Regions from separate parts of the Homo sapiens genome. Here all the other regions are linked to region 3. The links come from fine-mapping of genetic effects on gene expression. A gene starts in region 3. Each other region holds a variant in brackets. All regions are shown on one strand. Distances are from middle to middle.

Region 1 (9,973 bases), 40 kb after region 3:
TGGCCTGACTTCACCCTGGGATGGGGAAACTTCCTGGGAGGATATAGCTGACCTGGGAACAAAACTTGTTTTTTTGAAAGCTTTGTGCAACGTCAACTAAGTTGGGGGAGGGGTCTGGGCAAGGAAAGAAGAAAGCAAAGGGGGGCAGGGTGGGAACAGTTCTGCTAAACCAAACAATTCCCCAGGGATGATGGAGCTGTGGTGACCTGATAAGTCCTTTAAATGTCTTATTAATTACTGGGGGAAAAATTGGCTACTTCTGAGTCTCCCCTCTCTCACTGTCCTTGCACAAGCTTGGGACTAGCTCTGTCCTTTTTTAAGAGTCAGTCTTGGGCCGGGCATAGTGGCTCACTCCTGTAATCCCAGCACTTTGGGAGGCTAAGGCAGGAGGATCCCTTGAGGCCAGGAGCTTGAGACCAGCCTGGGCAACATAGCGAGACCTCATCCCTACAAATAATTTTTAAAAATTAGCTTGGAGTGTTGGTGTGTGTCTGTGGTCCCTGCTACTCAGGAGACTGAGGCAGGAGGATTACTTAAGCCCAGGCAGTGGAGGCAGCAGTGAGCTGTGATTGCACTATTGCACTCCAGCCTGGGTGATAGAGCAAGAACCTATCTCAAAAAAAAAAAAAAAAAAAAAAGAGTCCAGCTTTTTAAAGAAGGGTGCCCCTTGGTGGAAGACAACAGGACAAGGCAGGAGCTGGGGCTGCGGAGAGTCCGGGGTCTGCAGAGCATGGGGCTGCCATCAGAGACCCACCAGGCAGGTTCCTGCTCCTAGCAAGGACCCGGCTGAGCAGAGATGAGGGTGTGGAGGTGAACCTGGAAAACATGCAGAGGATTCTAGACACATTCCACAGTCAGAGCCTCTGGAAAGCCCACCTTCTCCATCACAGAGGCTTTGGGGAATAGACATCCTGTTTCTCTGTATTATTACAGCACAAAGCATTTATCATGCTGACAATGACAGTGACATTTCAGGACCTAAACAAGCTTAGTTGTTCACAGCTTACAGGAGAGAAGGCTCCTAACACTCTTTATTTATTTATTTATTTGTTTGTTTATTTATTTTGTTTTTGTTTTTTTTTGTTTTGAGACAGAGTTTCGCTCTGTCGCCCAGGCAGACAGAGTGCAGTGGCAAGATCTCGGCTCACTGCAAGTTCCGCTTCCAGGGTTCACGCCATTCTCCTGCCCAGCCTCCCGAGTAGCTGGGACTACAGGTGCCTGCCACGGCGCCTGGCTAATTTTTTGTATTTTTAGTAGAGGCGGGGTTTCACCGTGTTAGCCAGGATAGTCTCCATCTCCTGACATCTTGATCCACCCACCTCGGCCTCCCAGAGTGCTGGGATTACAGGCGTGAGCCACCGCGCCCGGCCTATTTATTTGTTTTTTGAGACAGAGCCTTGCTCTGTCATCCAGGCTGGAGTGCAATGGTGTGATCTCGGCTTATTGCAACTTCCACCTCCCAGGTTCAAGCAATTCTCCTGCCTCAGCCTCCCGAGTAGTCGGGACTACAGGTGTGCACTACCACAGCAGGCTATTTTTTTTTTTTTTTTTTAGTAGAGACAGAGTTTCTCCACGTTGGCCAGGCTGGTCTCGAACTCCTGACCTCAGACAATCTGCCTGCCACATGATTAGGTCCTGAGGGCTCTCCCCTCATGAATGGGATTAAGACTTTTATAAAAGAGGCCTGAAGGAGCTTGTTGACCCCTTCTGCCATGCAAGGACACAGAGGAGGCACCATGTATGAGGAATGAGCCCTCACAAGACACTGAATCTGCTGGCGCCTTGACCTTGGACTTTCCAGTCTCCAGAACTGTGAATGATAAATTTCCATTGTTTATAAATTACCCAGTCTAAGGTATTTTGTTATAGCAGCCAAAACCATCTACAGAGCACTAATGACAGTTTGGGCTGGATTATTCTTCGTTGTCGGGGCTGCCCTGTACATTGTAGGATGTTTTGGAATATCCCTGGCCTCTATCCACAAGATGCCAGTAGCGCCTCCCCCAACTCCATGACAAAACTGTCCCTTGGGGGCAAAATTACCCCTGGTTGAGAATCACGGCCAAGTAGCAGTCCCCATTCAGTGACCAGACAGCTAAGGAGATCCAGAGTGTAGTGCTGGGCCACACAGATGCTAAGGGAATTTATACTTCAGGAAAAAAAAAAAAAAGGCCAAGTCTATGTGGCCTTCGCATCAGTTATTACTCTCTCGGTTGCACTAAGTGACAGAAAATTCACCTCTAAATGACTTTAAATTGGGATGCTGTTTCATATAACTAAGCAGACCAGGGATTAGGCATTGTGCTGGTTCAGGCCAAGCTTGATCCAGGGATTCAAACAATATCACCAAGATTTGGCTTTATCTTTATCCCCGATGCTGCTCTTCTCCATAGCGTTTTCTTGTTGGGATAAGATGGCTGCCAGCAATCCAGTCCCACCTCTTCCTATGCCTGAGACTTGTGAGGAAAAAACATGAAGTGCTTTTCTTTTTGCAGTCCCAGCAAAAGTCTCATTCCACTGAACTGGCTCTGACTTGAACATGAATCCATCATCAAGCAAGACACCATGGCTGGGGAATGTGATGGCCTAAGTGGCCAGGTTGTAGTCACATAACCACTTCTGGATCTGGGAGTGGAGTCAACTCTGTCTGTGGGACATCAAGAATGGGGAAGTGGGGTTCCCAAGAGGAAAGTAGCATACTACCACTGGGAGACAGGTGAAAGGATTCTTGATGACAAAAAGCAATACATAGCTACCACAGTCTTTTTTTTCTTTTCTTTTCTTTTCTTTTTTTTTTTTTTTTTTGAGGCAGGGTCTCACTCTGTCGCTCAGGCTGGAGTGTAGTGTGAGATCTCAGCTCACTGCAGCCTCAACCTCCTAGGCTCAAAGAATCCTCCCTCTTCAGCCTCCAGAGTAGCTAGAATTATAAGTGTGCACCACCACACCCAGCTACTATTTGTATTTTTAGTAGAGATGGAGTCTCACCATGTTGCCCAGGCTGATCGCGAACTCCTGAGTTCAAGTGATCTGCCCACCTCGGCCTCCTGAAGTGCTAGGATTATAGGTGTGAGCCACCACACCTGACCTACCAAAGTCTTTATACCAAAAAGAAGCTCACTCTTAAATTGATTAAGGTGAGAGCTAAAAGTTTAAAGAAGACTCTGCCGAGTGGTAGTATAATACCTGTGCCATGATTGTCCAAATCAACCTCCAGGTGACAAACAAGAACTCTTTCAGGTATCTCTAAGATAAACTAGCATCTGAGATGGTTCATTCAGATGGATCTCTAAAATGGAGACTGCCAGAGTTTTACCAAGATTTTTCCTCCCATTTTTTCATAGTAACATATATGTAGTTGGGTCCATAGTTGCTCAGCTGGAGATAGCATTTCCCAATTTTCCTTGCAGTTCAAATCGTAGTACATGTGAGTCCCAGCCCTGGAGTGAGTAGTCACTTGGGGGACACCTTGCAGTTAGGTGTGACCACATGACTAAGTTTGCACTATATGGGCAGAAGAGATGATTACACCTAGGCCTTAAGATAGTGGGAATGCGGCAGGCTGAGACATGAGAATTGCTTGAACCCAGGAGGCGGAGGTTGCAGTGAGCTGAGATCATGCCACTGCACTCCAGCCTGGGTGATAGAGTGAGACTCAAAAAAAAAAAAAAAGATAGTGGGCATGTCTCATCCTTACTCTTTCCCCTTCCCTTGAACCAGAACATGATCTTGCCTGAGACCTAGCTTTGCCATGCTAGTAAAAATGATGCCCTAAGAGATGACAGGAAAATGCAAAGAACCTGGATCCCTGAATGACCTTGTGGAGCAGAGTATCCTGACAATCTGCAATGAATACCTCAAGTGAGAAAGAAATAAATTTGCCTTTTCTGAGAGACTAAATGTTGCATTACATCTATTCTAAGATCCATGTTTTTAATGTATTCTAATATCTTTGAAATCCATGGCACTGTTGGCCAGGTAGTGGTCAAGACCACCCTTAAGGTACGTCAGACCCCAGGAAAATGTTTTTTCTGGAACTCCTCCTGTCTATATAAACAAATTAATCCTAGCACTTTGGGGGGCTGAGGCAGAAGGATTGTTTGAGCCCAGGAGTTTGAGGATGCAGTAAGCCATGTTCATACCACTGCACTCCAGCCTGGGCATCAGAGCAAGACCCTGTCTCAAAAAAATAAAAATAATAAAAATAAACAAATTAGGCCCGGTGTGGTGGCTCATACCTCTAATCCCAGTACTTTGGGAGGCCGAGGTGGGTGGATCACTTGAGCCCAGGAGTTTGAGACCAGTTGGGCAACATGGTAAAACCCCATCTCTGCTAAAAATACAAAAAATTAGCCAGCCATACTGGTGTGTGCCTGCAGTCCCAGCTACTTGAGAGGCTGAGGCACGAGAATCCACTCCAGGAGGCAGAGGTTGCGGTGAGTCGAGGTCACACCATGGCACTCCAGCCTGGGCAACAGAGCGAGACTCTGTCTCAAAAAAATAAATAAATGAAAATAAAAAATAAATTAATTAATTTAAAATTAATAC[A/T]TTGCAAAATTCATAGATCCTTGTGAAGTATAGTGATTTATCACTGAAGATTTAGAATAATGGGTAAAGAAGAGCTACTTACGTATTTACTTGTTTATTGTGTAATCAATGCACATGAATATTTTTTTCTAGCTGCCAGGCATCATTTCTTCTATTTTGATCCAGTAACTATCTCTTCATAACTTCATATCTCCCACCATGAGAAAACAAGAGCAATACATCCTTATGTTGGCTAAATACAGGACAAATAATATTATTCTTTTAAGAACACCATGCCAGTGTTCTATCACAGCCTTTACTTGCCTTTGTTGCATGCTATTACTGAATGTTTACTGAAGCTTTCTCTCCATTCTAGAAATTGCAGGTCGTGTGGAAGTGACGTTTCGTGTTCTTTTAATAGAGATCCTGTGTTTCTGGTCCCAGATACTCTCTGTGGCTAAAGCTAATGTTGAAACAGAGATGTTTAAACAAATAGCAGTAGTAACAAAACACTTTGGTTTTAAACTAAGAATATACTTAGACCACAAAAGCAAGTTTCTACAGGTTTTTTTTTGTTTTGTTTTTGTTGTTGTTGTTTTGAGAGGAAGTCTCGCTCTGTCAACCAAGCTGGAGTGCAGTGGTGCGATCTCAGCTCACTGCAACCTCCGCCTCCCAGGTTCAAGCGATTCTCCTGCCTCAGCTTCCTGAGTAGCTGGGATTACAGGCATGTGCCACCATGCCTGGCTAATTTTTGTATTTGTAGTAGAGATGGGGTTTCGCCATGTTGGTCAGGCTGGTCTCGAACTCCTGACCTCGTGATCCACCTGCCTTGGCCTCCCAAAGTGCTGGGATTACAGGCGTGAGCCACCGTGCCTGGTGGGAAAGGGACTTTCTCGGGGGATTCCAGCTTGTAAGTGGCAGGGCCTGGATTCGACTAAGACCTTTAATGCCACATCCTGAGCTCTGTCCACCATACTGTGAAGTCTACTTTTAGGGCAATCCCATTTCTATCTTTGTCTTTTGTGTTATCTGGATTGAAAGAGTTTAATTTCTGTGTGTTTATTTTGGAGTAGGGTGCAGTGGATGTTTCTTAGCACCTACAGAGAAAATTCTTGTATAGCAAGAAGTCCATTTGACAAAGCACTGTTAAATTTTGGACTACAACCATTGCAGATTTCTCCCAGGATTGCGTTCTCACAGATTGCCAATGAGATGAGAGCTTTCATGCATTATGTTTCTTATGCAAATAAGTTGACTTCCTTTTCAAGTTATATGAGAAACCCCCACTATTCCTGGGTTTTATGAATTATGGGATGGAGTGTACAAAACATCACCAACCTTCTCATTTCTGTCCACCCAAGTATTGTTAAGTATTTGCATCAATTGACATAGTTTTGCTATCTTGAATTGAAGAGGGTTTTGAGTTTTATTTGTTTGGTTTTGTGGGAGTTGTTTTGTTTGGGTTCAGAGCTCTCTGGGGAGAAAGATAAGTGTACTGGAAGGTATTGATGAGCTGTTATCTTCCATGATGGTTTGAGAGACTCATTTCCAGCCCCTGTGAGGGAAGCGTGAGGGGCGATAAATGGAAAGAGGAGTAACTGTGTGAGGCTTTGTGCAACTAAAGATATATGCAGCTTTGCTTCACAACACACTTAACGAAGTGCAGCCAGTCTGTGAGAGGTCCCTGCTGCCCTATCCCACCCTCCACTTTGGTGACCTGCTGGCTTAGAGTGGCCCCAGGAGAGAAGGGAGAGAATGCTGTTCCCAGCAGGGCAACAGGAGTGACCACTGCAAGAACAATGTTCTTATGGAGGCCACAGACACTGATGAGGTACCCCCTTTTAAGGAGCTTGTGAATAGCAGACCAGGAATGGGGAGGCTGAAGGGGAAGAACATAGTGGATTTGCCTATGAACCTATGGGAGATAGTTCGGGGGTCTCCCAGAAATAACTAAGGGTGAGTTAGCAGGGCGAGGGGATGGCTAGCAAGTTCTATAGACCTTCAGTAGGAGACCAGAGCTAATGAAATTTAGGTCTGGATGTCAATATGACCTCCTTGGTTAATATGACCCATAGGCTGGTAAAAATCTCTTACAGGATGTTGTGAGACACTGTACTTTATTCCTGTCTTTCATATGTCATTTAACTTCAAAAATTCTGTCTTCAGTGAAGACACCATGAGAAATGCTTACAATGCAGACTCTTTCCAAGTGCAGTTATCTGGGGCAGGCCGCCCGATTCGCTGATTGCCCTGCCCACCTCCACCCTTCTAGGGAAGGCTCTAGTGGGAGGAATCTCTTAGAAACTGTTCATAGTGCAGCAGCTAGAAAAGTCTAGCTGCAGGGTTTTGGGGTGAGAGGAAAATAGTTTCTTTTCTATGCTAGGGTAGTGAGCCAGATATGACTTGCTAAAAAACCTCTGAGTGACTAGGGTATTAGGCCAGATTTTCGCTATTTTAACTGAAGTTGAAACGAGAGGAAATACGGTGTAAACTGCAGCATAAAGGATTTAGATTCAAGCAATAAAGGATTTCCCAACATCAAAGGGCAACAGATCTCTGCTCTGGGTCCATCATTAATTTTTATTTTATTTATTATTATTTTTAGAGATGAGGTCTTGCTATGTTGCCCAGCCTGGTCTCAGACTACAGGCATTCACCACTGCATCCAGCTTTTCCTTCCTTCCCGCCTTCCTTCCTTCCTTCCTTCCTTCCTTCCTTCCTTCCCTTCTTCCTTTTTTTCTTTTTTTTTTGACAAAGTCTTGCTCTCTTGCCCATGCCGGAGTGCAATGGTTTGATCTCACCTCACTGCAACCTTCGCCTCCCGGGTTCAAGCGATTCTCCTGCCTCAGCCTCCCAAGTAGCTGGGATTATAGGCGGCTGCAACCATACCCAGCTAATTTTTGTATTTTTTAGTAGAGATGGGCTTTCACCATGTTGGCCAGGCTGGTCTTGAACTCCTGACCTCAGGTGATTCGCCTGCCTCGGCATCCCAAAGTGTTGAGATTACAGGCGTGTGCCACCATGCCTGGCCAACACCCAGCTTTTTCTAGGCCTTTTTTTTTCTTTTTTTTTTTTGAGACAGAGTCTCACTCTGTCACCCAGGCTGGACTGCAGTGGCGCAATCTCGGCTCACTGCAACCTCCCGCTCCTGGGTTCAAGCGATTCTCCTGCCTCAGCCTCCCGAGTAGCTGGGACTGCAGCTGTGCGCCACTGCACCCAGCTACTTTTTTTTTTTTTGAGATGGAATCTCACGCTGTTGCCCGGGCTGGAGTGCAGTGGTGCGATCTCAGCTCACTGCAACCTCCGCCTTCCAGGTTCAAGCAATTCTCCTGCCTCAGCCTCCCAAGTAACTGGGATTACAGGCGCCTGCTACCACGCCCAGCTAATTATTTATTTTTATTTTTATTTTTTTAGTAGAGACAGGGTTTCACTATGTTGGCCAGGCTGGTCTTGAACACCTGACCTTGTGATCCACCTGCCTCAGCCTCCCAAAGTGCTGGGATCACAGGCGTGAGCCACCACGCCCGGCCTTTTTTTTTTTTTTTGTATTTTTATTAGTGACGGGGTTTCATCATGTTGGCCAGGCTGTTCTCGAATTCCTGACCTCAGGTGATCCGCCCGCCTCAGCCTCCCAAAGTGCTGGGATTACAGGCGTGAGCCACTGCACCCAGCCCTAGGCCCATTTTTAAAGGTAAATAGAGAGCCCTCTCTTGTTAGCCAACCTTCCAGATCTAAATGGCTAAGTGTCTCTTCCTGATCTCCCATCCTTTACCTAAACTAACTGATCTCCTATTTGTGTTCCCAAATCTTTCTTATAGCACTTATAAAACCATTCTGGGAACTCCTTAAGAGAAGAGACTGGGCCTTATATATGCTTTACTGTGCTCCTAACCCTTGGGAGGGACACAGTACACAGTAAATGTTGGTTAGCTTGATCGTAAGTGAAAAACTGACTTGAGACAGGAGACTGTGGCAGTACTCATTAGAGCAATCTGTGTAGCACTTTTTTGAGCTTCATGTGTGGAATGGGGCTGTGAAGAGCTAGGGAGAAGTGGTTATGAGGATGAAATGAGGAAGCTTAAGGAAAACGTCTGTACAATGTTTGGTCTCACACAGTCCCCTTCTACCCTTTGTCCTCTTCCTTCTAGCTGACATTGTATTGGGAAGCAAAGGTCAGGGGCTCTGTGTGAAGGCAAGAGGTCCAAATGATTTCTCAAGGGATCTAAGGGAACTGGACGGCGGAGAAAACGATCAAGGGGCAGGCCCTGCACAGGGACTGGGAAGGCAAGCAGAGAAACTAAAGAGCGCTAGCCAAAATGGTGGAAGAGAATTCTGGGGCTGTGGCACAACTATCCACAAAAGCTTCCTCTTTCCTTAGTGGAGTCTCAGTACAGTTCACTCAGGAGGAGAATCTAACGAATAGGCACCAGCTGCATCAAGGGACACTTACTTCACTCCATGTCCTGGCACCTTCCTGAGGATGAAGATGCCACAATTCACCAGATGAGTCAATTCACGGGAAAGGCGCTAGTCAAGTCCCAGGCTCTGTCTAGCAACTGTCTTTCCAGTGGAAAAGAAGTTAGCTGAAGTAATCAAAGGATTCCCTAACGCAAGAGTTGGGACATGCCAAAGTCCCTCTTCAAGGGGAGAGAGGCAGCTGCATGGTTACAAAGTAGACAAAGAAAGACAAGGGGCTTCTTTTAAACTGGAATGTGTGAAATAGAAGCAGGGAGCTGTGAATGCCACAGCAGCAATTATGCAGAAAGACTGCAGTGCAGACACTGAGCAGCACCATCCTATCTGATAACATCAGCAGCGGCAGAGGCATATTCCAACAAGAGCTGTTTAAGAGCTGCTAATTACTTAGATTCCAATAGGAGCTATGTCTTAAAAGTGATTACAATTTTTGATTACAGCTTTTTGAACTGATTGCAGCTGTAAGCTATGAAGGCAGTAATCTAAATACAAGCAAAAATTCCTTTGATCAAACACAAAGGAACTCTTCCAAATAAAGATACCTTTATTTTACATACATATATAGCTATGTGTTTCGCATGCGTAAACAAGTGAGTTATACACATCTATTAAACATATAACCATCTACACTAAATTTTAGGTTCCCTGAGACCAGGGACCACACTTGTGCATCCTTATAATTCCTTACAGTGTCTAGTAGGGTATATGGCACATAGAAGATGCTTACTGAATTGAATGAAAGTGAAACAATTGCTGTATTAATGATTTGATCAGATAATTGTTGTTTGTTACAATAATGGCCTACTATAGAATAAATACTGGGAAAAGCAATACAAAAGTCCATTTTACTAACCTCAAATCCAGGAAATGTACCTTCTTTTCTAGAAACCCAAAAGAAGTATGGAAATACATTCTTGAAAAGAAAGCTAACCACTCTACATTCCACAACAGAGACCATGTTGACTGTGCTGTG
Region 2 (9,973 bases), 29 kb after region 3:
CTTTGATTTTACATGAAGGGGATCATGCTGACCACATTGCTTTGCAACTTTTCCCCCATAACTGTATATTCTGGACATTTTCTCATGTCAACAAAAATAGGACTTCCTCTTTTTTTTTTTTCTTTCTTCTAGAGATGCGGTTTCACTCTGTTGCCCAGGCTAGAGTGCACTAATACAATCATAGCTTACTGCACCCTCAACCTCCTGGGCTCAAGCAATCCTCCTGCCTCAGCCTCATGAGTAGCTGGGACTACAGGTGAGCACCACCACACCTGGCTATCCTCATTTTTTGTTTTTAACCTCTACCTAATATTCCATGCGTGCCTGTAACACAGTTGATTCAACCACGCCCCTCTCACTCCCCCTCACTCAGGGTCCCAGCTCTAGAGGACATGGGTCAAAAGGTTTTCATGGTAAATGGTGCCTCTGCACAATTCCAGGGGATGCCATCCACACCCAGAATGCAGCAGCCCTGCCTGATGAAGAGATAAGGTGGCTCCAGTTTTTACCATACAAACAATTCTGCACCGAGCATGCTCACCCATGTCTCTTTGTGCACATGTGTGAGTGGTTCTCCAGGCATTGATGATTCAGGGTGGAGCTGGAGGGCAGAAGTGCATGCTTCCGACATTTCAGGGACCTTGCCATGGTGTGGGAGGGCAGCCTGGGGTTCCTAAGCCCCTTCAGCCTCTGCTGAACCAGGTTGCCTAGCATACATCCATCATGTGGCTGCCGGCTGGGCCGCTGCTTCCAGGAAATCAATTGCAAAAACCTGCGATTGTCAGTGGCTCACACACTGGAGGCCATCCAGGGAGTAGATTAAATTGTATGAAAAAATAGTACAGGGCTCAAGACCGCTCGTAATGGAGACCCCTCGGTGACCTTTCTGCAGAAGTTAAAAGAACACAGGCAGACATACTCTCACCCTTGCTCACCAACGTGCTAGCCCGCCTGCCAGGAGCATAGCCCCTCTGCCCTTGGAGGAGCCGCGCCTCATTAGCAGGAAGTGGGAGGCCTGGTCCAGGGCCCAGTCTGCCTGTGCATGGCAAGAAGGCCAGCAGGGGCACCTGCTTCCCTGCAGGGTGGACCCAAGTTGACCATCAGGCCTTAGATGCTTAAGGTCACTGAGCCCCCCTTCTCCATGCCAGCCCTCTTCTGCTTCCCATGCAGGCACCACTGTGGACCCCTGCTCTGCACCCCCAGGAGGAGTGGGACTGCTTCAAGGGCAGCCTGGAGGAAAGAGGTGTGGTGTGAACACATACAACATGTTCCTTAACCAGGAAGGCGACTGGAGTCTTTACCTGGTTTCAAAGCAGCCAAGCCTAGAGGCCCCCACCCCTTGTTCTTTATTATGATTGCCCTTTGACCCCAACCCCCCAATTCTTTCCTCTCCAGATCCCCAGCCATGCATACTCCAACTTGGTTCTGCAAAGAATACCCAGCCACAGCTGTGAACTTGGGGAAACACATTTTTTCTTTTTCTTTTCTTTTCTTTTTTTTTTTTTTTTGAGAGGGAGTCTCACTCTGTTGCCCAGGCTGAGGTACAGTGGCGTGATCTTGACTCACTGCAACCTCCACCTCCCAGGTTCAAGCAATTCTTCTGCCTAAGCCTCCTGAGTAGCTAGGACTACAGGCATGTGCCACCACCCCCAGCTAATTTTTGTATTTTTAGTAGAGATGGGGTTTCACCATGCTGGCCAGGCTGGGCTTGAACTCCTGGCCTCAAGCAGTCCTCTCACCTTGCCTCCCAAGGTGCTAGGATTATAGGCTTGAGCCACCATGCATGTGCACGGCCAGCACATTCATTTTCTATACATAACTGTCTCCCAGCTCTTCAGGCCAACTTACCTGATAATGATAAAAATAACTAAGCTGCCATGGATTGGGCAGTGTGCCAAGTGCTCCATGTATATTACCTTACTTAGTTTTCACAAACTCTATGAGGTAGGTACCACTATTATTTACAGGTGAGGAAATGGAGGCTCAGAGAGGTTAAGTGAATTGATCCAGGCCACACAGCTGGTAAGCGCCAGAGCCACTAGTGGACGCCAGGTCCAGCCAGCCCCCAGAGCCCATGTGCTGAGCCACTGTGCTATACTGACTCCCACTTAATTCTCTCTTCTGGGTTGTCCCAAAGACCAAGTTCGGCTGGCCAATTTTCCAGGACCATCTCTCATGGCACCTGGAGGCTTGTAGGTTCCTGGAGGACTCTCACACCTCCTTCCCACCCTTCTCCAGATTCTCCAACTCCCTCTTGAGCAGACCCGGCCCCACTCTGGGGCACCCTGCCTTCCTGGGACCTGTCGTAACAGTCACCCACTCTGCCAGGGCCTGGCTGACCCAGGCTGGGGACCGTGGGACCCCTCTGGGCAGTGCCCCCCTACCTGGGCCCAGGTGGGTATGGATTTCTTTCTTCTGGGCCATTGCACCCGCCAGAAGGTGCGGTGGGAGAGGCAGGCCCACATTTCAGAGGGCCTTGCTGCCCCCATGTGGCATGAGGCTGTAGCGGCTGCAGCCTCCTCTTCCCTCCCTCCTGCCACTGCTCCCGAAGCCAAGGCTTTTGCAGGGTTGAAAAGGAAGAGAAAGAGGAGAAGCAGGAATGTGAGAGAAATGAGGCAGAGGGATGGGCTAGGGAAGAGAGAAGCCCTTCTGCGTTACCTGGAAATGCAGCAACAATAATAACAAAGCCAATGTTAGGAATGTTTAAAGGCAGCTGCCACATAGCACTTTTTATAGCTTGTAGACTCTCTCATTTAATCCTGGCACTTACATCAATCTGATTAGTAGCTATTATTAGTTTTATAGGTGATGATCCAAGGCGCAATTATTTGTTCCCCAGCTAGTAGGTGACAGAGCCCAGATTGAATCTGACTCCAGAACCCTAACCACGATATTCCCCTGTCTAGAAGGAGCCAGTTCTCTCCTGCAACCCCCACTGCTCAGCCTCTAGGAGTTCCAGCCACCAGCCACCTGCACCCTCCCTTCCATGTGGCTTTGCCCTCTGTTCTTCTCCTCTCCACTCTCTCTCCAAGGTCCAAGTGGTCAAGGTCATCCCAAGGGTCTGCTGGGACCGTGTGTCCTTATTCTGTGCCTTGCTGGTCGCCAACCTTCCCCATCTGCCAAGGACTGATGTCCAGCCCAGGCCCAGGTGCAGGTGCCCAGGTCATTTTTGCCACTGAGTAAAGGGAGACAGAATGACAGGGTAAATTACCAACCACCAGAACACCATGGAGCCAATAGCATCAATGCAAGTGAAGTATATTTATCTGTTGGCCTGAAAACATGTCCTAGTATATTGTCCCATTAAGCAAAAAGCAGGTTATAAAGCTGTGTACATTAAGAAACATTTTATAAGTGAAACAAAAGTATTCTCCGTTTCTATGCAGAGAAAAAGGATATTTGCCAAGATGTTAACAGATTATTTTTGCTGTCTTCTCTTGGCTTATTTTTGTTTTCTCTTTTTCAATGAACACCAATTAGTCACATGATTTTAAAAAGCAATAAAAATAAACCAATCCCAGACGGATTGTACTTCTTCCTGTCCTCATTTCTACCCCGAGTCTCCAAAAAAAAAAAAAAAAAAAAAGAAGAAAGAAAAAAAAATCACAGTGCCACATGCCCAGACCTTCCCTTCTCCCTCCTATCATTTCAATAACTCAGCTGGGTAGGGAGCGTCTCTACCTACCCCAGGAAGCCTTCTGAACTTGACTGACAGGAGAAGCCCATGCCCCAGGGGCATTTTCTCACTGACCATGCCAGGGCCCTGGAGGACAAGCCAGAGCTGTCCATGGCATTGCTCCTGCAGGTGATGCTGCCTTCTGAGGGCAAAGCGCTCTGGGACGGGTCGGCCCCGCTCACGTGGGTGTGCAGCCCCAGGGCAGTGGAACAGTGCAGAATCCTCGCTCCACTGCTGAGGTTACTATGGGCAACATCTTGGCAAAATGAAGAGTGAGGGGGAAGAAATCACAGAAGCTCCTGATCATCCATGAAAGAAAAAGCAGTGCCTCAGGACTGGGCTATGCCAGTGCCTTCCAGAAGGCTTTGAAGAAACTGGGAAGGAGATGGGGACTGGCACTTCCTGGGCATCTACTATGTACGTGCCCTCACAGACGTGATCTCACCCCTCATTACACACCTCCCATGGTACGGATGATGCCACTGAGGCACAGGAGGCACACATCCACACCAGACCATAGGTGCCTTGGCTTCTAGTGTCTCTGCTGCTTAACGTGGTGTCCTGGAAACGTCTCTGGATAGAAACACTGGTATCTTCTGGAAGCGTCTTCTCCTCCCCGTGCGGTACATTGCTCAGACTCCATAGAAGGCCAGCTCTCCTAGAGCCACAGAAACTCCTCCATTCTGGAGCAGGAGCTAGGCACATTCCCAGAAGGGGGCTGCCCCTCCTGAGCCCTTGCTAGTTTAATGATATAAGTTGTTGCTAACTTCATCCTATCTGCCTTTAAAATAGCAGCCATCAGAAAGGCAGCCCAGAGAGCTGGCCTGCAACCCAGCAGAGCCTAAAGGGGGCCTGTAATGTCACGCCGACCCCATCTTCAAATCACACTCCCTGTGGTGGCCATCCCTAGAGACCTACAAACAAAAGCTCCTGTTCTTGGCAAGCCTCTTACAAGCAGGACAGATGCAGGAATTGGGAGTCAGAAGACCACGGTGTTCTTCCAGCTCTGAGCCCAACCATCTGGGTCACCTTAGCTGAGCTGCTCCTTCATGTCCCCAACCCTTCTGTTCATACAGCATGATGGTGTAGAAAGGGGTCCAAAGGGTGTTGCTGAAGAATGCTCAGCCCCCTGGCGCTGTGTCTGTACTAAATAAAAGTCTGGTAACAGATTCCAAGTCCCTGAGTATCCTGGTTTGGCTGTACTCAGTCGAAGCGTGATTGATAGTGACATCCTGTGGACACAATAGGTAACTGCATCAGCTTGGACAGAAGCCAGAGGATGACATCCAGCTTCCCTCATTACATGGAGAGGAGCTGATTGCAATTAATCACACTCATCATCTTACACAGGGAGCTGTCTTAGAGCTGGGAAAAAAAATTAGAAAAACAACCTTCAAGGCCAGGCGCGGTGGCTCACGCCTGTAATCCCAGCACTTTGGGAGGCCGAAACGGGTGGATCACGAGGTCAGGAGTTCGAGACCAGCCTGGCCAACATAGTGAAACCCTGTCTCTATAAAAATACAAAAAATTAGCAGGCATGGTAGCGGGCACCTGTAATCCCAGCTACTAGGGAGGTTGAGGAAGGAGAATCGCTTGAACCCGGGAGGCGGAGGTTGCAGTGAGCTGAGATCATGCTACTGCACTCCAGCCTGGGCAACAGTGCAAGACTCTGTCTCAAAAAAAAAAAAAAAAAAAAAACCGTCAAGCCACAGATTTCTCTGCCATCATCCTCCAAGTTACATCTATTTCGTTTAAATTTGTCTGTCTTCAAATACTG[G/A]CCTGATACAAGAGTCTAGTGACCATGGAGGGAAAGTAATGTCAATAGCAATGTTAAAAGCAGAAAGATGTAATGGGCAGTTTACTCTTGCCATGAATTTCACATGCATTATCTCATTTAATCTTCCCCCAAACCCAAGGAGGTACATGTTCTTATCCCCAATTTTCAGATGAAGAACCTGAGATGCGGTGCACAAGGAAAAGCTATGTTTCAAACCTGGACAATCTGTCACCCGCCTGTCTTAGTCCATTTCGTGTTGCCATAACAGGATACCTGAGACGGGGTAATTTATAAAGAAGAGAGGTTTATTCAGCTTACAGATCTGTTGGCTGGGAGAATCAAGAAGCATGGCCTCAGCATCTGCTCAGCCTCTGGTGAGGGCTGCGACATACAGAAGGTCAAAGGGAGAGTGAACACTTGCAAAGAAGGGAAAACCCAAGGGGCATCCTGGCTTTATAACAACCCACTGTCTTGGGAACAAATCCATTCCTACAAGAATCCAGTCTTGCCAGGGTGAAAACTCACTCTCCACTGTGAGGATGGCACTAAGCCCTTCATGAGAGATCTGCCCCCATGACCCAGACACCTCCCACTAGGCCCCACCTCCCACCACCACCACACCGAGGGTCAAATTTCAACATGAGTTTAGGTTGACGCAACCATATCCAAACCACAGTAGACTCCATTCCCTTTAATCACCACTTTATGCACCTTCACTGCCTCTTGTGTCTACCTGGCCCACCCCATGCCATGGTAATCCCTCCTTCCTAGAACACTGGAGAAAATTCCACTTCCTGGGATACTGGCTTGAATTCTCCAGACTGAGTACCTCTGAGTCACCTTCTGTGGCAGCAAGGAGGAGGTGGATAGGAGGAGCTTTAGGGTTAGACAGGCCTGGGTTGGAATCCCAGCTCTGTGCCTCGCTGTCACTAGCTGTGTGTCCTGGGGCTTGTTCTTGAACTTCACTTTCCTAGATTGCCAAGTGTGGCCCATGATCCCTTGCCTTGAGAGGGTGTTGTGAAGATTAGAGAAATCACTTGCTGCTGAGTAGATGCTCAAGAAGTGAAGGCTGTTCTCGTTGGCAAGATGTGCAATTTGACCTTGGGAGGAGCCAGCCTGGAGATTTCAGCAGGTGTCAAATTCTTATCTAACCTGTTTAGAAAACACCACTACTAAGAAGGGCTAGAGGCGGGCGGATCACCTGAAGTCGAGAGTTCAAGACCAGCCTTTCCAACATGGAGAAACCCTGTCTCTACTTAAAATACAAAATTAGCAGGGCATGGTTTTGCATGCCTGTAATCCCAGCTACTCAGGAGGCTGAGGCAGGAGAATCGCTAGAACCCAGGAGGCAGAGGTTGTGGTGAGCCGAGATCGCGCCATTGCACTCCAGCCTGGGCAACAAGAGCAAAACTCCATCTCAAAAAAAGAAGGGCTGGGATTCAGATGGAGGAGAAGGCCAGCCTTCTTGCCCTGAGGCTTATGATGTTTCAGAGGGGGCTTGCTGATCTATCAGGGTTCAAAGGATCTCCAAAGGGAGTTATTTAGCTAAGATGGCAGAGCAGAAACAAGATTCCAAGACTTTGTACCCTGCCTTTCCATAGAGAAATTATTATTCAAAGAGTAGTATCCCAGCAGGATTCAAGTTCATGCCTCCAGGTATCTTTAGAGACCCTGGTACCATGAGCCAGCCTCTGTGTAGTTCAGGAAGCGCAAATTCAAGACTAGAAGTGGGGTGTCTGGATTCTAGTTCCAGCTCTACCTCCCACTGTTCTTGCAGACTCTTGAACTTGGTCCTCTTCTTGTCTCTTCAAGGTCATACCACTGAATGCTTCTCCTCTTCAGTGCCTCAGTGATGTCTCTCTTTTCCCTTCCCTGCAAAGCAGTGCTGTCCTTCTTGCCCATAGTGCTCTACTAGCAGAGACCATAATGACCACTGGTTAAGTGATTAAGAACAGGGCTGTTCATTTCTTTTTTTTCTTTTTTTGAGATGGAATTTCACTCTTGTTGCCCAGGCTGGAGTGCAATGGTGTAATCTTGGCTTACCACAACCTCCGCCTCTCAGGTTCAAGTGATTCTCCTGCCTCAGCCTCCCAAGTAGCTGGGATTACAGGCATGCACCACCACACCCAGCTAATTTTGTATTTTTTTTTTTTTTAGTAGAGACGGGGTTTCTCCATGTTGGTCAGACTGGTCTCAAATTCTTGACCTCAGGTGATCCACCTGCCTCGGCCTCCCAAAAGACTGTTCATTTCTATAGCCCCAGTCTCTAATATGGCATCTGACACATGGAAAGTGCTCACTGGTGAAAGAGTAAGTGGGACAACTCACTATAAATGGCTGTGGGGCCCATTGCTGGAAATATCCCCAGAGAGAATAGCACTGGGGCCCCTAACCATTCCAAGTAATGTTTAAGAATTATAATATGGAACTCTTTCTGTTCCAAGTTACACTGAGGCCCCAATATGACAGATATCAGTATTAGTTATCTATTGCTACATAACAGATTACCTCAAAATTTAGTAGCTTAAAACAATAATAAACATTTATTATCTCAGTTTCTCTTGATGAGGAATTGGGGAGTGGCTTAGCTGGTGTTCTGGCTTAGGGTTTGTCATGAGGTTACAGTCAAAATGTCAAGTAGGGATGCAGTCATTTGAAGGCTTGACTGGGGCCGTATGATCTGCATCTAAGATGGCACGCTCACATGGCCAGCAAGATGGTGCTGGCTACTGGCAGGAGGCCTCAGTTCCTTGCCATGTGGACCTCTCCATGGACCTCCCTGAGTAGCTTCATGACATGGCAGCTGACTTCTCCCAGAATGAGTGGTTCAAGAGAGCAGGGAGGAGGTCACAATGTCTCTTATGACTATATTAGATCCACAGGGCTGCTGTAACAAAGTACCACAAGCAAGATAACTTAACAGAAATTTACTCTTTCACAGTTCTGGGGGCCAGAAGTCTGAAACCACATTGTCAGCAGGGTCAGAACGGTGGCACATGGAAGGTGCTCATTGGTGAAACAATGAGTGGGAAAGAATAAATCATTCCTTGCCTCTTCCAACTTCTGACGGCCGCAGATGTTTCTTGGCTTGTGGCTGTATCATTCCAATCTCTGTCTCCATCTTCACACGGCCTTCTCCCTTGTGTCTGTCTACTCTTTGTCTCTCTCTCCTTATGAGAACACCAGTCATTGGATGTAGGGCCCACTCTAGTCAAGAACAACCCTTGATTACAACTGCGAAGACTATTTCCAGAAAAGGTCACATTTATAGGCCCTGGGGGTTAGGGCTGCAACATATCTTCTGGGGGACATCATTAAACACACAACAATGACCTAGCCTCAGAAGATGCATGCCATCAGCTCTGCAATAGCAAGTGGCTACAAGGGTCGGCCCTGTTCACGGAGGGAGGAGACACAATGATGTGAATACCAGGAGATGGGGACAATGAGGGGCCATTGTGGAAGCAGGCTACCACAATATCATCAGATAGCAAACTGAACATGAGACAGACTCCCATATGTAGTATTTACAAAGGAAATAATGGGGAACCAGTTGCATAGCACTCAGGGCCCTCAGCCTACCAACAATATAGAGTGTGGAGAATGGGGAGAGTTTGGAAATAGAAACTTCCAGAAAGGGCAAAGCCATGCTGTAAGCTACCCCACCAAGGAGTTAGGGGCCCTACTGCTTTCAACTCAAGCCTAGTGATGGGGGCTTCCATGCAGCCACTTGGAGCTGTGGGCCCCCATGGGACTGTGCCAGGAGGGACTGCATTAGGATGAGTGAAGGGGCTGTGTGAGTTCTTCCCATGGGCCACATGTGGATCAGATGGACCATGGCAGGAGAGAGGGCCAAGGTGGGGGTCATTTTAAGTCCTGTAGGGCCTCTGAGAAGGGCAAAGGGATGTCAGCAGAAAGAAGTTGGAAGAGGATGCTGGATTTCTAGGGGTTGAAGATGGAGTCATAGCTGTACCTGAAATGGAGGTGCAGAACAGGGAACTTCAGGAGAAAACCTTAGAGATGGGAACTTTTTTTTTTTTTTTTTTTAAGACAGGGTCTCACTCTGTTGCCCAAGCTGGAGTCCAGTGGCCCAAACTCGGCTCACAGCAACCTCTACCTCCTGGGTTCAAGCAATCCTCCTGCCTCAGCCTCCCAAGTAGCTGGGACTACAGGCGTGCAGCACCACCCCCAGATACTTTTTGTATTTTTGGTAGAGATGAGGTTTAGCCATGTTGCTCGGGCTGGTCTAGTACTCCTGGGCTCCAGTGATCTGCCCGCCTCCGCCTTCCAAAGTGCTGGGATTATAGGCGTGAGCCACCAAGCCTGGCTGAGATGGGAACTTCTGAAGAACACAGGGAACCCTCCAGAAAGAGCTTTCACCATCTGCCACACCCAGAGAGCTGGCAATCATACAGTCAAGTAAAAACTGCCCTATTCCCCTGCTCCCCATCCGCTTCCCTGCATCCTCACCCACCACCTCCACTTAGACTCTGAAAGCAACCAGCAAGTGGGGAGAGGGG
Region 3 (9,973 bases):
TAGGGCTGTAGAAAGGCGAGACACTGTGACAAATCTTTTTTCCAGCGCTAAGCCCTTCGAGGTAAAATGGGTGGAAAGCCAGGCCTGCCGCTAAGCCCTGTCCACTCTCTTCATCTTGCCCTTGGAGGGCCTCCTCCTGGGGGGCCAATCTAGCATGTCCATGTCCTTCTGGGCTGGCAGACAAACAAGCAATGACAAGCTTTAGGCCTAAAAGCTGGAGAAAGACAATAGCAAGGTTAGGCTGTTTGTTTCTCATCTCTCCTAGAGAGACAAGGATATCCCCTCCCCAAATCCCTGGTGGTGGCAGTGAAGCTCGGAGCAGTTGGATTTATTTAGGGCTTTTACTTTTTTTTTTTGTTTTGGCCAATTTGGAAAGAAAAGAGGCAATGACCTCTTCTTTAAAAAACAAAACTAGGCAGGAAGTGTACTGGGCCTGAGTGGCAGGGACTAAGGGTGTAATTACAGGTTTTTGTTCAGCATTTTCGAGTAATTAAATCCAAAGGAAAGCGAGCCTAGCCGAGGCTTCTTGGATGCAGGGCAGAGAAGAGCTGTGTGTATGTGTGTGTTTTGTGTGTGTTGGGATGGGGAGGAGAGGCAGGAGGTGAGAAATGGATTTGCTTTTCAGGCTGAGAAGAAGCGGGCTTCTCGCCTTTATTAATATTTTTACATTGCTTTTTCCAAAAGGTAGCCGATTATTCATCTTTTATTCGGTGCCACTGCCCTCTCCTTGGTGACATTTTCAGCGTGCACAGCTTTCTAGGCACTGATTTTCCTTCACGCCAACTCTCCCCCTCCCCACTTTTTCATATTCCCGCTTTCTGCCTGGTTGCCCACACAATAAACCCACTGCAAAATCCGCAGCCAGCTTTCTTGCCTACAGCTTCCATCCCAGCGACCTCCGACGCTGAACAATAGTCTCTCCTTTTGTTTTAAACATCTTCTGGCTTTCCTTGTTCCGCTTTAAAATACTTCTTACCACCACCATCCCTACCCAGCCTCCCCCGTGGTTGCCTCGGTTTCCTTTTGGGACAAGCAGTCTGTGCACAAGCGCACCTGGTTTGCAACGCCCAGAGCGTTTGAAATGGGTTCAAAGCCTAGGGATGCGCGGGCTCCTCTCTCCTCCCCTCCTCTTCCTTCCCTCTCCCTGGGCCCTTGATGTCCCTCCGACGTTCCCTGGACGTTGTGAAGTGACAAGCAAGAAAGCATATACTGTCTGCTCACATTTTTAAGGGCAGGAAACCTGACTCACCCCCAGACCACGCGCCCCAAGGAGGGGCACTTGCATTTTCCGGCGGGTGGGGGGGCGGCCTCTACTAGGGTTAGCTGGGGCCGGCCTGGAGGCTGCCCCCTCCTCTTCCTCCTTCTCCTACCCCCACCCCACATCATGCCCGCAGATTACCGCCCCCACTTCCCCCGCCAGTCCCCTTCACCTACTCTCCCCAAGAACAGATTGTTTATCAGAACGGGCAGCCAAGAAACCTACTCCTGTTTCTGGCCTCTGCCAGAGATTAATCACACTTGGGAATGGCACAAAACTTGACTGTGTTGGGAAGGGGTGAGGCGTAGGGGGTAGGAAGGTGGGGAGATGTGGGGTGGGGGGATAGTTAAAAGGAAAGACCAATACATTTGACAAGGTGACCAAATCGGGGTTACCGCTGCCTCTCCCCTCCTTTAATTTTAGTAAGTCAGTGCAGAAGACGGAATTCTACTTCATTCCCACTCCCTCTACCCCCACCCCCAATTACCTTCCTTCTTCTCTAGGTCTTCATGTTTGATGCTTTAATAGTACTGACTGGCTTTTAATTCTGATTAACATTCTCAGCTGGTGCGTGCGTGTGTGTGTGTGTGTGTGTGTGTGTGCGCGCGCGCGCCCTCGAGCGCGCGTTGGGGCCTGGCAAGACACACTCAAACCGGACTGCCTGACAAATCCCCCCTTTTCATCCTTCTCTTTGAAATGACATCAAGATGGACTTGTGGGGGGGGAGGGATGAAGAGAGGAGGCACGGAAAAAAGAGAGGGAGGGGGAAGGAATTTATGTGCTTTTCTACGGCAGCTAGTAAAATTCCTAAGGGAGAACAAATGCCAAAATTGACTGTCTTGGTGTATTTTAGACCCGATCGTCAGGGTGAATCATGTCAGGGCTTTGCAGTGGACCTGCAGCCTGGGAGCTGAAGACAGGGACACGAAACATCCCTGTGTCTGGGAGGTGCCCTTCTGAAAGAGGCAGGAGATGGGTATTTGCTCTCACCAGGCTCCTCTCCTTCAGGATTTTTTTTTTTCTAATTCATTGCAAGATGGAGTTTTTTTTTAAAAAATTGGCACTGATAAAAGCCAAGGATAGAAAACTCCCCATAAAACACGGCCCCCCAAGGGAAGTGCAAAACCCATTTGATGCAAAATATAGATATCTTCACCCTGGATTTTTCCCCCTTTGCTTTACAACTCTGCAGACATCAGGTTAGCAAAAGGTAATAAATAGTCCTTGCACAGCAGGGTCTGGACTAGTGAAAACAGTTTACTGAAATTAATGGGCCTCGTTTGAACCAAAACCTCCACTTTGGAATTAATGCCAGACATAGTTTTCCTGAACTCTATCCAACCGCCTAAGCGGCAGACAATTTTCATTCTATTTGTGCTGGAAAATAAAGCCCAAGCCCTTGATCTCAGTGTAGATTTTCATTAAAAAAAAAAAAAAAGTACAGTGAATACTATGCCAATTTCCACTTTCTGCCCATAGAAGCCCTTGTGCTCTGGGCTGTGCGTGACGGTCAGAAGTTATCTGGTAAACTTTGCATTGAAAAGCATCTCCGAACTCCCTCCCCATCTGTGGCCTCACAGCTTTCACCATGACATCTGAGAGATTCAAGGAAAGCTCCAGAAACAGGCTTAGCTCTCAATAACAACCCTCTTCCCTACAGATCTTAGAAAGGCTGGATCTGAACAACGCTGCCTGCAAGACCTCCATTCCCACCCTAAATAAAGCGCCAAACCATCCAACCGAAACCCACCCCTCCTCCCCTGGTACTCAGGGTGTCTACAGCTCTGAGGCTCCCTTTATTTTTATTTTTATTAATGTATTTTTAAGGCTGAAAGGCACACACACCACACGCATTCACACCCAGTGGTTATGGGGTTTTGGCAGGTACGCGGAGACCCGGTGCCCCAGCTGTCAGTGTCTGATCCCAACCCCTCCTCCTCCTCCCTCCGTTATTTATTAATAAAAGCCTGGTCGTGGGCAGCCGGCGTTCTGGTTTTCATTGTACAGTCTGCACTGGTGACACAGGACATGTGGAAAATTTTGAGAGCACTGCGGTGAATAGTGTGGAGGGGGAGCGTGAGCAGGGGGAGGGGAGGGGAGGGAGGGGAGCGAGTTACTTTTTAGCTTCCGCTAAGTACTTGGCGGCTCGCCAGGCCCGGAGAATTGTGGGAAGCGAAAACCTCCCCAGTATAAACTGCCAGCTTTAAGCAGCCCTGACAGTTCTGCTCCTTCCAAACTTGGCAGCCGTTCAAAGTGCTCTTTCATTTGAAATGCTGGAAGCCTGCCATGTGCAATGCAGATTTGCTGTGCCTGTGCGCAGAAGGAACTGATAAATGCCGTTGCAGTTGCCATGGGGACAGGAGGCTATCAGAATGGCCTTGTGATCCGCAGCCTCTCTGCGCGGCAGGCTCTCGTTCTCCCCCTCCCGCCCCTCCTCCCTCTAGTCAGTGAGATGGTGAAATAAATGTTCTGGAAAAAGGTTAACCCTCCCCGCTCTGGTTCCGAGGGTGAGAGGAGGTTAACCTCTAAGCACTTCCTTGGCCTTAAGTGCCAGCCCGGAGCACAGGTGTCAGCGCCGTCCTTGGGTGGGTCACCATCCTCCCGCTCTCCTCTTTCACACCCCCAGCTTTCTTCCTGCTCCCTGGGGGCTTTCACAAAGCGGTATTTTTAATAGAGGCTTTTCAGCAAGCTCAAGTGTAAGTCTTTGAGTCATCAAAACCCGGATGTAAACACAGCAGCCCTGCATTCTGCACAGTTTGCGTGTATTTTATCTTTTTAATAATATTTAGCTGGCAACTTAAAACTGCAAGGATGCCAGATATTTTAGCCAGCCACTTACATCATGCAGCATCCATCTTGGGGAGAGTGGTGGCGGGTCCTTTCCTTGTTCTCTTGCTCCCTGCCGCCTACCTGAGACCGCAGGAAATCTGGGTCTTTCTGAAGGCATCTTCTTGTGGTGTAGTCCCCTTGGAACCGCGGCCTTTAGAATGAACATGACATCACCTTGGGCAACAACGACAGAGGGTGTGTTCCTGTAGGAGACAAGACACGGGGAGATCCAAGGTGAAACAGATCTATCATTTACGCTGCGCCAATTTCAGGTGTGTGAGGGTGCACAGTCTGGATCATCAGCCCCCCATTTAGCACGAACTGCCGTTTGAAACACAGTCTGATTTAATGTACAGAAACAAAATAGCACATTCAGATTTGGTATATTTTCAGGCCTGTAATGCCAACACTCCGGGTGGCCTGTTTAATGGGGAAAAAATGAAATATTCCACTCCAGCCCAGGCCTATGGAAACCAAAGAGGTTTAGTGATTTATTTACATTGGGGGTAAAAACGGTGAGCAGTATTCCTTCTCGGCTCGCTACTTCCTGAAGGTTTCCTGAACCTAAACATTCGTTAACATCCCAGGAAGGGAACTTATTTTTCCTGTGGCTTTCAATATTTTCTGCTAAATATATTTCGGCACACTGTTTATCTTGGGCTTCAGCTTTCAGACCTTTATGCACTTTTAACACCTTGAGGCTGTTTCACTGAAAAATGGTGTATGTTAATTAAAGAGGACTTTATGTGCTGGGCATTAAGGCAGGGGGGATTTCTGTTTTGATCTGTCTGTATAATGAGGGGCTTCAGGATGAAACACAAGTCAGAGGCCTGTTAGCTTCGTGAAGCCCTTTTGACAAAGCGGGACCTTGAATGTGGGCCCTTGTATTCAAACACTTGAAGACCACAGAATGTTGAACTGAACGAAACATTTCTTCCTAAGTGCATGGTGAACATGGAGGCCAGGAGACGAGAAAGACTGAAAATGCCCCAAGTTCCTGGGGCTTAGCTGCAATTTCTTTGAACTTGACTGTCTCTGGGTGTCTGCTCGTGATTGTCACGGCAGCTCTGGCCAAGGCGATGCACTCTGTCTCGCTGGAATTTCCTGATTCCAAAGTAGCCCCTTCCAAATAAATAATCAACAAACGCCATCTGCTTCACCTTGCCAGCAGGCACAGAGCTGAAGGGTTAGCTAAAACCTACAATTTTTAGGAGCAGTAGGCTCTTGAGACATTTCAAGATAGGTTTCGACTTGGAATTAAACTAGAGTTAGAGGCAGAAATCAGGTGATTCAGAAAGCAACCCCCCCTCCCTCCCGCCAACTTCCCCAGACAGTCCAGGCAGCTGGGTTTTTGGCTCTCACAGCTGCTAAGCTTTGGCAAGCCAAAAGCATATTTCGTGGTGGTGATTCCTTTCCCAGGTTGACGGACATGTTTCTGTACTGAGCACAAGGCATGTTTCCTGACCGTGTGTGAATCAGAGGCTGCATTTTTATCCAGGGCTTCTGGTGACAGTTTTAAGCTGGATGAACAAAGCAGACCCTGACATGTCCCTGTCATCAAGGTCAAGAGATACAGAATCTATCCTAAATGTTCGCCACCTCTAGCCCAGATGTATTATATTTATTTATTTTTGTTTTGTTTTGTTTTTTGAGGCGGTGTCTTCCTCTGTCGCCCAGGCTGGAGTGCAGTGGGGCAGTCTCAGCTCACTGCAACCTCCGCCTCCCGGGTTCAAGCAATTCTCTTGCCTCAGCCTCCCGAGTAGCTGGGATTACAGGCACGTGCTATCATGCCTGGCTACTTTTTTTGTATTTTTAGTAGAGACAGGGTTTTGCCATGTTGGCCGGGCTGGTCTCGAACTCCTGACCTCAGGCGATCTGCCCTCCTCAGCTTCCCAAAGTTTCTGGGATTACAGGCATGAGCCACCACACCCGGCTATTTTTTTTTTAATCATGCCAAGAGCAGCCACCACCCCACAAGTCAATGGATGCCCATGTTCATGTGTCAGATGTTACCCTTCTCTCTCTCAGTGTTTTTGTAGTGTTTGCTTCTTTGTTGGCTTTGGTGAGAAGATTTACAAAAGCCATTTTGGACCCTTGAGTGCCTTTCCAGATCGAGGCAAGCTCCAAGATTCCAAACAGCCTTGACCTCGTCTGTGTCGCCCCATTATAGCAGGGATGATAACCGGAGGGGAGTCCTTGGTGTAGCCCCTCCATACCAGGGCCCGGAGAGCCAGCTTCCCAGAAATCCATGGATTAGGAAACTCTGTCGTGGGCCAGTTCAGGAGCGGCAGGGGGAACAACTCCCTTTTGTTTTGTTGTCTAGCATGTGACCAGAATGCTGCCAGCTAATTTTAACCCCACCAAAGTACTGCTGGGAAAAAAAAAAAAAAAACTATCTTGCATCTGGAGAGAGAAATGCTGTGGGCTGGATAAAAGCTTTTCAGCCTGTGTTCCTTCCTGTTTCAGTTTCCAAACTTGCATTATCGGTAACCTGAAAAATGATGAGTTTCACCAAATTCCTGGATGTTGTGCAAGAGGACAATGAGTCTATTTTGGGTGGTGTGAGTGTGTCTGGCATAGACACTGGGAACCATTGTTTTCAGGAGGGAGAATGTTTTGGGGTTTCCTGGTGCTTTCCTTATAGGGTCTCAAAGCCCCAAGGGGTACTGCTGGGGGGAGAAACCCTCCATGGCAACCATGGAGGCTGTGCTCTGCAAAAGACCTGGCTGAGAATTGGGTGGTTAGGCCAGTGGGTGGGGGTGAGGGGTGACGTGGCAGTGGTGGCTCCAGAGGTGTTAAAAGGTGCTCTGTAGGGAGTGTTTGAGGTAGAACGACTGGAGCAGGAAGAAGTGGGGAGAGAGAGATGCTTTCACTGTGGCTGGGCGGCCCCCTGGGACACAGGGCACCTCTTCTACTAATTCTCCATATCTGCTTTTAGCACCATGCGTGAATGGAGGATTATATGGAGTTCCCCACCCTGGATACTGGATTCTCAAAGCATACCTGTGGTGGTTCATTGTTGCTGTCTGGCTGGATGGCAGTTGTTGCTAGTGGAAAAGTCCAGAATCGCAAGACCCAGGAAATGAAATGGTTTGGGTGAGACAGCGTGTAGCTAGGCAGGTGCCGCTGACTGTTCTAGAACTAGATAGTAAGGTGGACTGCCGTTAACCTGAGTGTCCACAACGCAGTCTCGGAAGATAAGGTCAACACTGCAGCACTTGCTGCAACCTCAACCAGGAGAGCTTGGTGGCAGTTGTTCTGACAGCTGCAGAGGGCCTCAGCTGCCTAAAAAGCCATTTGCTCAGCCCTGCCCTGTCTGGCCAACTTCTGTGTATTTCAAGGATCCTCATGGGTCTCTGTGGCCCCCCTCTTTTCTGAGTCCTCAGGCAGACACCATCTTCGGAAGGGCAGGGAACCCCATGTTCTGCTTCTAACTGGCTGCTATAACCTGCCAGCAGTAGTCAAGATCAGTTGGCAAATCCCTAAATTAAGGTTCTGTTTATTTTGTTGTTTCAAAGGCTTGTTTTGAGCAAGATGTTGTGCTTTAATTAAAAAGATGAGAGATCATGAGTAAGTGAAAATATTTTTGAATCTTCACAAATAGGTTTGAATTTCATTTCTTGCGATTCACAGTAGGGGGTCAAGCTGATCAGCACTTTTATCTGTGAGACCATCTAGAAGGTCTTCTGTAAGTTAACAGCTGACTCTTCTGCACAATAGAATTGTAAAGGGAATCCTCTGTCAAGCATTTGTTCCTTGCTGCTTCTCTGTTTACAGATTTTAGCCAGCCTTCAGCTGTCATTAGGGCATATTCCTCATTTACCTTTCTAGCCAGAGGATTCCTAAATGTTTCATAATAGCTCCACAGCTGGAATGCAGCTGCTTGGGGTGGAGCAAACATAACTCCCTATAGGTCAGCGGGTGAGGGAGGGCAGGGAATCTTGGAAGGTTGGGAAAGTCCTTCTAAAGCCAGAGCTCAGGAATGAGTGGGGCCACTGGTGTGAAGACTTTCCAGATGGGGGAAGGAAGGGTTCATTTTCTGCCCTCTGGGTAGATTCCAAAAAATCGCTTTGGGGAGGCCAACTATTTTGAAATTGCCTTTAAAGAAGACAACACAAATGTTTAAACTGACCTGGAAAAGCCTTTCTTTTTCCTTTCCCTACAATCCTAGTCTGTTCCCTTGCACATTAATCAACAGAATTGTGTGCCCACGATTCTCCCCTCCCTCACCTCTTTTATTATTATTATCTTTGGTTCAGGAAACTTTTGGAAGCTTTCCCAGGCTGGAGCTATAGAATGATTCCAGGAAAATGCATAGGAGTTTCTGAGTTTTCTCTGGAGGGAGCTGAACATGTTTTTCAGAGAGACGAAGCTAGGGGCAACCAGGTCTTGTGCAAGAATGCAGCCACAAAAGAGGGCAGACAGTGCTAAAAAGATCTGTGGACATCCAAAAGTTCTGAAAGCAAGGTGTGGCTTAGTGAGCCTGCCTGTTCCCCACCCCTTCAGTGTTTTATTATGGCAGCTGCCATGATGTCAGTCCGTGAGCCCAAGCACCCCATCTCAGGGAGATATGCTGAGAACAGCTGGGTGCTGGGGTTTGGACTCTCAAGTTAGCAGCACTTGTAGTTTCTGCCAAAAGAACACTCCAAGATATAGATGGAAAAGTGCAGGGAGTCAATACTTACCCAGCAGGCAGGGGCCCCACCCAGACATGGAATGCAATGGACAAAAAAGTGTCCTTGGGCTATTGCTGCCAAGGGTGGTGCCAGCCTTCAGCCTGTGCCAGCGCAGATGCTTTTGAGCCCAGAAAACACACACAGAACTGCATGCACGCATATATCAGAAACATCTGTCTATACACAAAACCAGAAAGCTACTGGGGAGGTGTGCATAGATGAGGTACAAGAGCAAGGGGGACCTGCAGGACCCATCACTGATAGATGTGGCTTTTTTTTTTTTTTTTGAAACAGGGTGTTGCTCTGTCGCCCAAGCTGGAGTGCAGTGGCATGATCTGGCTCACTGCAATCTCCACCTCCTGGGCTTAAGTGATACTCCTGTTTCAGCCTCCCGAGTAGTTGGGATTACAGGCGCACGCCACCATGCCTGGCTAATTTTTGTATTTTTAGTAAAGATGGGGTTTCACCATTGGGCCAGGCTGGTCTCAAACTTCTGACCTCAGGTGATCTGCTCACCTTGGTCTCCCAAAGTACTGGGATTACAGGCGTGAGCCATTGCACCTGGCCAGATGTGACTCTTGAAAGCAAAGGCAGCTTATATTTCCTGGAAATACACTTCATTCAGGTTGGTTCACGGGCAAAGGAGACAGAAGTTGCTCCTTAAGGAGAATGCCCTGGGCGAGGGCAGAGCTGCCAGCCACTCTGCAATGGTAGGGCTGCTGCACCCACTGTGGCCAGGAGAACCTCAGGAGAGGTGAAACAATCAGAGGGTTGTGGTGATAGAAACTAGAGGACACAGCTCCCAGCTCTCCTCGCCCCGTTAGTTTGAAGACTGTTACCAGCAGCACTGTCGTGGTTCTGGCAGTAAAATCTCCTTCCTTTCTACCCAGGGACATACCGACTCCGGAAAGCATCTTTCCTACAGCAGGTTGGGAAGGTGCTTAACAGCCCAGACTTTAGGATATTAATAGCAATGATGATAGGCAAGGCTGACATTTATTGGGCACCTCTTATGTGTTGGACATTGTGCTGGCTGTTTCAATGCATTATCTCTTCTAATCCACACTTAATGAAGTGGATTCAGTTATCGTCCCCATTTTATAGATGAAGCAACTGAAACTCAGAAAGGTTAAATAACGTTATCTTAGGACACACAGCTAGTAAGTGTTGGCTGAAGTTTGAACTCAGGGTTGCCTGACTCTAGAGGCCT

Alleles and levels. Alleles are on the strand shown, and positions count from the first base shown. SD is a standard deviation of normalised expression in the study named. Not every link is listed here.
In carriers of allele G in region 2, the expression in subcutaneous fat of the gene that starts at base 4,093 in region 3 tends to be lower than with A alone (small effect, 0.24 SD a copy in GTEx).

What was found. PIP is the estimated chance that this variant, and not a neighbour inherited with it, causes the effect.
Region 1: its variant is fine-mapped to the expression of LINC02288 in whole blood (INTERVAL, PIP above 0.99).
Region 2: its variant is fine-mapped to the expression of LINC02288 in subcutaneous fat (GTEx, PIP above 0.99).

Annotation. Positions count from the first base shown.
Region 1 is chr14:77,076,514-77,086,486 of GRCh38, forward strand. No RefSeq gene overlaps it. Among named protein-coding and RNA genes, the nearest start is that of LINC02289, 5.3 kb to the left of the region's middle. The variant A/T (reference allele first, on the strand shown) is at 4,546.
Region 2 is chr14:77,065,939-77,075,911 of GRCh38, forward strand. It overlaps LINC02288 (long intergenic non-protein coding RNA 2288), which reads left to right. Exons shown (of 4, transcript NR_110554.1): 3 at 133-256; 4 at 1,171-3,565. LINC02289 (long intergenic non-protein coding RNA 2289) reads right to left here. Exons shown (of 3, transcript NR_110553.1): 2 at 5,772-5,834; 3 at 3,242-4,908. Among named protein-coding and RNA genes, the nearest start is that of LINC02289, 5.3 kb to the right of the region's middle. RefSeq lists a silencer at 2,288-2,582 and an enhancer at 2,552-2,611. The variant G/A (reference allele first, on the strand shown) is at 5,454.
Region 3 is chr14:77,036,957-77,046,929 of GRCh38, forward strand. LINC02288 (long intergenic non-protein coding RNA 2288) reads left to right here and starts at 4,093. Exons shown (of 4, transcript NR_110554.1): 1 at 4,093-4,321. RefSeq lists a silencer at 3,266-3,455 and enhancers at 3,565-4,296, 3,572-8,054, 3,706-3,795, 7,601-8,111.